Linked DNA regions of Homo sapiens. The protein of the gene in region 1 interacts with the protein of each later gene in a biochemical or structural test. Each region holds a gene or a part of one and is shown in the gene's direction. Other genes may lie near its edges.

Region 1 (3,316 bases):
TCTTGGAATCTGAGAACCCGGAGTCGCAGCGCCCTCGGGCCTGGGCCACACGCAGGCCCTGGTGGGACCACCCAGCCTGGTATTGTCCACGGACAGCGTTGTTCACCCAGAGCCTTACTTGGGAGCCTCACTGAACGCCTGCTCTGGTTGAAGGTGGGGTGGGGGCGGGGCTTGGGGCCTCCCTGGCTCAGCCCAGTGCGGCCTGGCGCTCCTCCCGCAGGCTCTGCCCCCGGGCTCCGGTGGTGCGGGGCCCTCTCAGGTTGAACTCGCCTCTTTTGCACTGGAAGGCCCTCCCTTTGGCCTGAGTACTTTTCCCGTTCACGCCTCAGTCCCGTGGACCCAGCCTTTGTCAGTGGCAGGTGCCTGAACAGAGGGTGGATGGGGGGGATACCGGAGGGGGTCTTGTCTTCCCAGCCGCAGTCTAGGAATGATGCGGGGGGGTGGACGCCTTCTCCATAGTCTTTCCCCACCTGGAGCAGGGGCTTCCTCAGTGGTGAGGGGAGCTGCCTACAGGTTGGACCGGGAGGCAGTGGCTTGGAGAGGCAGCTTTCCAGCCTTGGTGGGGAAGAAAGTGTCCATTCTTTGCCTTCCTGGAGCTCCCAGCCAGAGCTGAGCTTAGGCACCCGAGTGGAGCCTGCAGCTGAGTCTGTGCCCGAGACAGGCTGTCAGAGATTCCAGAAGCCTCTCCTCCCCGCCGCCCTCCACCCCTGCCTTTCAGCGTTGTGGATCCCTAGAGGTGGCCCCCTGCCCGATCCACCGTCCTGAGGCAGAGTGTTGAGCCTCATACCTGTACCAGGTCCCCGGCCAGCTGGGCCCCTCCCAGGCACTGCCAGGAAGCCCCAGCTGCCCCTGGCGGGTGTGGTGGAAATGGCAGGAGGGTGCAGGTACTCTTGGGGCCCCAGCGGTGGGAGTGCAAAAGACCCAACGCCAACACCTGGTGCCTTCTGCAGCCAGCGCCCACCCATCCGTGCCCGGACCCTTGGGAATGCCCGCGGCTCCAGAGGAAAAAGCCCAGGGACGGGGCCTCCGTTGCGGGGGGTCGGCTGCTTCTTGGGAACTTTGTCGTTTCCGGCGCTGGCTGGCTGGCTGGCTGGCTGTAAAGCACTGAAGCCCCCCGGCCGCCAACCCCTGAAAGCAGAACCTGGCCTCCCTGGCCACAGCAGCCTTACCCACCGCTCTACGTGTCCCGGGCACTTCCCGCAGCCTTCCCGTCCCTTTCTCATCGGCCTTGTAGTTGTACAGTGCTGTTGGTTTGAAAAGGTGATGTGTGGGGAGTGCGGCTCATCACTGAGTAGAGAGGTAGAATTTCTATTTAACCAGACCTGTAGTAGTATTACCAATCCAGTTCAATTAAGGTGATTTTTTGTAATTATTATTATTTTGGTGGGACAATCTTTAATTTTCTAAAGATAGCACTAACATCAGCTCATTAGCCACCTGTGCCTGTCCCCGCCTTGGCCCGGCTGGATGAAGCGGCTTCCCCGCAGGGCCCCCACTTCCCAGTGGCTGCTTCCTGGGGACCCAGGGCACCCCGGCACCTTCAGGCACGCTCCTCAGCTGGTCACCTCCCGGCTTTGCCGTTCAGATGGGGCTCCTGAGGCTCAGGAGTGAAGATGCCACAGAGCCGGGCTCCCCTAGGCTGCGTCGGGCATGCTTGGAAGCTGGCCTGCCAGGACCTTCCACCCTGGGGCCTGTGTCAGCCGCCGGCCCTCCGCACCCTGGAAGCACACGGCCTCTGGGAAGGACAGCCCTGACCTTCGGTTTTCCGAGCACGGTGTTTCCCAAGAATTCTGGGCTGGCGGCCTGGTGGCAGTGCTGGAGATGACCCCGAGCCCCTCCCCGTGGGGCACCCAGGAGGGCCCTGCCGGAATGTGCAGCCTGTGGGTAGTCGGCTGGTGTCCCTGTCGTGGAGCTGGGGTGCGTGATCTGGTGCTCGTCCACGCAGGTGTGTGGTGTAAACATGTATGTGCTGTACAGAGAGACGCGTGTGGAGAGAGCCGCACACCAGCGCCACCCAGGAAAGGCGGAGCGGTTACCAGTGTTTTGTGTTTATTTTTAATCAAGACGTTTCCCCTGTTTTCCTATAAATTTGCTTCGTGTAAGCAAGTACATAAGGACCCTCCTTTGGTGAAATCCGGGTTCGAATGAATATCTCAAGGCAGGAGATGCATCTATTTTAAGATGCTTTGGAGCAGACAGCTTTAGCCGTTCCCAATCCTTAGCAATGCCTTAGCTGGGACGCATAGCTAATACTTTAGAGAGGATGACAGATCCATAAAGAGAGTAAAGATAAGAGAAAATGTCTAAAGCATCTGGAAAGGTAAAAAAAAAAAATCTATTTTTGTACAAATGTAATTTTATCCCTCATGTATACTTGGATATGGCGGGGGGAGGGCTGGGACTGTTTCGTTTCTGCTTCTAGAGATTGAGGTGAAAGCTTCGTCCGAGAAACGCCAGGACAGACGATGGCAGAGGAGAGGGCTCCTGTGACGGCGGCGAGGCTTGGGAGGAAACCGCCGCAATGGGGGTGTCTTCCCTCGGGGCAGGAGGGTGGGCCTGAGGCTTTCAAGGGTTTTCTTCCCTTTCGAGTAATTTTTAAAGCCTTGCTCTGTTGTGTCCTGTTGCCGGCTCTGGCCTTCCTGTGACTGACTGTGAAGTGGCTTCTCCGTACGATTGTCTCTGAAACATCGTGGCCTCAGGTGCCAGGGTTTGATGGACAGTAGCATTAGAATTGTGGAAAAGGAACACGCAAAGGGAGAAGTGTGAGAGGAGAAACAAAATATGAGCGTTTAAAATACATCGCCATTCAGTTCGTTTGTTCCGTGTGGGGACTTTTTTGTTTGGAGCGGGAGGGCCCGCGATCAGCCCCCACCAGCCCACCCTCCTGTCCACCCTACCTGCCGGTCCTGTGCGGCGAGGCTGGCATCCTCTGTGGGCCATACTCTTGAGAGTTCTCTCCCTGTCCACTGGGCTCTGCTGCTCCTCCAAGGGGCAGGGGGCTGGGGCCTCCGTGAGGGCACCTCTCAGCAGCCGTGGGCACTGGGCCTGTGGGCGCCTGCGGAGCACGAGTGTTCCCACCTGTCCCTCCCCAGGCTGCCTAAGCATCCACGCCTCTGCAGCCACGCTGGCCCAGATGGGCAGGAGGTGCACCCAGAGGGCCAAGGAACACACGATGTCACCCAGCTGCCCCAATAACAACAAGTTAATGATGCCCCATCTGCATTGTCTCCTGTGATAAACGCCCTCTGTCTCCATGCTGTCTGGGGCTGGGCTGCTCCCGGCCTGGTTTGGTCTTCGTGCCCGGAGCCCTCTCATG
Region 2 (3,500 bases), on another chromosome or scaffold:
GAGAAGATACAGTCTTTGTGAGGCAATGGAAAGGTATTCAATTAGTCCAGGAGTTAGAACATGAAATTCCTTGTTACATGGACATGTTGCAAACAAGAAAGGAAAATAAAAAATAACATTGTAGTCCCAAAGCAGTCTGCAAACAGGCATGAGATACAAACACAAGCTCTAAAAGCTGGGAGAAGTGTGTGGAAAAGGTCCATTAAAGGACATACGTTTTGAGTTGGTAGAGAAGGTGATAAATGAGACTAGCAAACCGAATGGAAGGTGTAGGCATCTGGTGGGGGTGGTGGGTGGCAATACGGAGAAAAATGTAATTAGAACAGGGATTATACTAAGGAATAAGGAGGTGTACATGTGAGTGAAGGGAACAAAATAAGGCTAAATTTGTGGAGGACTTTGGCAGATTGAGAAATTTATATTTGAGGTGATAGCTGTTATAAAGCCTTGAGTAGAATAACTATATTTGTTGAGAGCAGATAGGATTAAAGATAGAAAAGCTGACTAGGAGACTATGGCATTTATTCAGGAAAGGATGGACACTGAGAAAACTTATTGTGGGAGAAAACTGGGAAGAGGACTTGCTTACTGAATATAAGAGAAGGAAGGGTCAAAACAGAATTGTGGGTTCTGTAGACTAAGAAAATGGTGATGGGGTCGGGTGTGGTGGCTCACGCCTGTAATCCCAGCACTTTGGGAGGCAAAGGTGGGTGGATCCCCTGAGGTCAGAAGTTCAAGACCAGCCTAGTCAACATGGTGAAACCCCGTCTCTATAAATATACAAAAATTAGCCGGGCATGGTGGTGGGCACCTGTAATCTCAGCTACTCAGGAGGCTGAGGCAGGAGAATTGCTTGAACCCAGGAAGCAGAGGTTGCAGTGAGCCGAGATTGGGCCATTGTGCTCCAGCCTGGGCAACAAGAGTGAAAGTTCGTTCAAAAAAAAAAAAAAAAAAAAAGAAAAGAAAAGAAAATGGTGATGGGGATAAGGAAATTGGGAAGAAGCAGTGATTTTGGAGATAAAGGAAATGTGATTTTTATTTTAGAAATGTTACAGCAGGTGGTAGAGCATCTAAAGGGAATTGACTTTTGGATGCATGGAGAAATGACACCAGAATTCATATAAGAAGTAAAGGTAGAGAGATTTGGGAGCCACCTGAATAGAGGTCAAAGTTGAAACCTCAAAGTATATATACATTTTTTTAAAATACATTAATAAGAAAGCAGAGGACCAAGCATGAACATAGAAGGTAGGGATTTATTGAAAGTTGTAAAAGGGAGAGGACAAAGAAAGATATAAAAAAACCAAGATAGTGGTGTAATGAGAGCAAGGGAAGATATATTTTAAGCTTAATGTTTCTCAACATCAATTTGGATATGACCAGAAGGATGCCAAAGGCAATCCTAAAGTGTGTTTTGAAGGTTTAATGGTTCATAGGTTAAAAATGTTTATACACTGAGGAAAATATCCCCTGCCCCCTCAATTTGTTTGCCTTACGGTTTAGTTATGGATGATTTGGGCTAGAGGAAAATAATTGAGCTAGCTATGCTCCAGTTCTTTCCCTTCTTTTGGTGTGAATATGAGGAATTCCAAGTAAAAATAATTATTAGGTAATATTAATGTCTCTATTATACTGTATTGTATGGTGCAATATCTCTGTTATACTGACATGGGGCTTTCTTTATTCCCAAAGACAAATATAATTTCATCTCATGTCTCCCTTCAGCAAGATTTTAATTCTTCCTAATGATGAATACTTGAATACAAATAAATTTCTGGCCCCTTATTTTTCTACTGAACTCGGGAGATGGAGATGCCTCAGGAATATTTATTTGAATGAATTTAATGCATGTTTTCCTGTGTATTTACAGATGGGACACGAGTGGGTTTGGCTGGATTCTGAACAAGATCATCCCAATGACTCTGAGTTGAGCAATGACTGCAGGTCCCTCTTCAGCTCATGGGACTCCAGTCTGGATCTTGATGTGGGCAACTGGAGGGAAACTGAGGATCCAGAGGCTGAGGAACTAGAGGAAAGCAGCCCGGAGAGAGAACCTAGTGAACTGCTTGTTGGGGATGGAGGCAGTGAGGAATCTCAGGAAGCGGCAAGGAAAGCCAGCCACCAGAACCTCCTCCACTTTCTCTCTGAGGTAACAGTGAGCTCTTATTTCCAAAGCTGGAAAAGCCTCAACTTTCTAAGAGAATGCTTATCCTTACATGCTTCTACCACTCTTAATATTGTTTACTAAAATATAAGCTCCACAGTGGCAGGGATTAAGTTCATTGCTATGTCCTCAGCACTTGGTGCTGATACAGAATATGCACCAAATACATGCTTTTTGGGCCGGGTGCAGTGGCTCACGCCTGTAATCCCAGCACTTTGGGAGGCTGAGGCCAGTGGATCACTTGAGGTTGGGAGTTCGAGACCAGCCTGGCCAACATGGTGAAACCCCATCTCTACTAAAAATACAAAAATGGCCGGGCGCAGTGGCTCATGCCTGTAATCCCAGCACTTTAGGAGGCCGAGGCGGGCGGATCACTTGAGGTCAGGAGTTCAAGACCAGCCTGGCCAACATGGTGAAACCCCATCTCTACTAAAAATACAAAAAATTAGCCGGGCGTGGTGGCGGGCGCCTGTAATCCCAGCTGCTCGGGAGGCTGAGGCAGGAGAATCACTTGAACCTGAGAGGCGGAGGTTGCAGTGAGCTGAGATCACACCATTGCACTCCAGCCTGGGCGACAGAGCGAAACTCTGTCTCTAAATAAATAAATTAATTAAAATTAAAATTAAAATTAAAAAATTAGCCGGGCTTGGTGGCATGTGCCTGTAATCCCAGCTACCTGGGAGGCTGAGGCAGGAGAATCGCTTGAACCCGGGAGGCGGAAGTTGCAGTGAGCTGAGATCGTGCCATTGGACTCCAGCCTAGGTAACAGAGCGAGACTCCGTCTCAAAAGTAAAAAAATTAAAAATAAAAAAATACATGCTTTTTGACTGAATTTCTAATACTTCAGTCATTAGGGGCCTGGGTCATAAGGACTGCTTTATGAGTATCCTTGTAATTCATGCTTTTGGAGTTGTGGGAAGTTATACTTGCCCAAATTTTCCTTGAAGCTTAAAATGCTGTAACTTTAAGGTAGTATTTTTAAGTGTCATTACCTTGGTTAAGGGCTGAGGACCAGAAATAAACAGAATTGGACAGAGAGTTATATGTATGCTGTTATTGAACACATTTAGAAGACCCTAGATCAAGATCAGCAAGCATCCATTTCAAATGTTGCCACTTCTCTCTACAAGTGTCTGTGGTAGACAAAATTTTCAACACTTTATTCTAGACAGCCACTCCCAATTGATCAGAGTTGACAGCTGAGATGAAAAAGTAGAACATAAACTCCTGGAAGAGGCAAGAACCATATCTTTCTTGTTCACTGTAGTGTCCCCACCAACCAGCCCAGTGCCTGTGTATATAAGATATTTTGGCAGATTTTAGATGATTGTATTAA

Evidence for each region. Proteins that work in one complex are often made in the same cells at the same time.
Region 2: the proteins of RXRA (region 1) and BRD8 form a complex in vitro, tested with the Homo sapiens proteins (one study listed by BioGRID).

Annotation. Positions count from the first base shown.
Region 1 is NC_000009.12:134,437,770-134,441,085, forward strand, and holds the end of RXRA (retinoic acid receptor RXR-alpha), read left to right. Parts: 3' UTR 1-2,816; downstream 2,817-3,316. UniProt on the Homo sapiens protein: Receptor for retinoic acid that acts as a transcription factor.
Region 2 is NC_000005.10:138,151,131-138,154,630, reverse strand, and holds part of BRD8 (bromodomain-containing protein 8), read left to right. Parts: intron 1-1,870; coding exon 1,871-2,149; intron 2,150-3,500. UniProt on the Homo sapiens protein: May act as a coactivator during transcriptional activation by hormone-activated nuclear receptors (NR). Isoform 2 stimulates transcriptional activation by AR/DHTR, ESR1/NR3A1, RXRA/NR2B1 and THRB/ERBA2.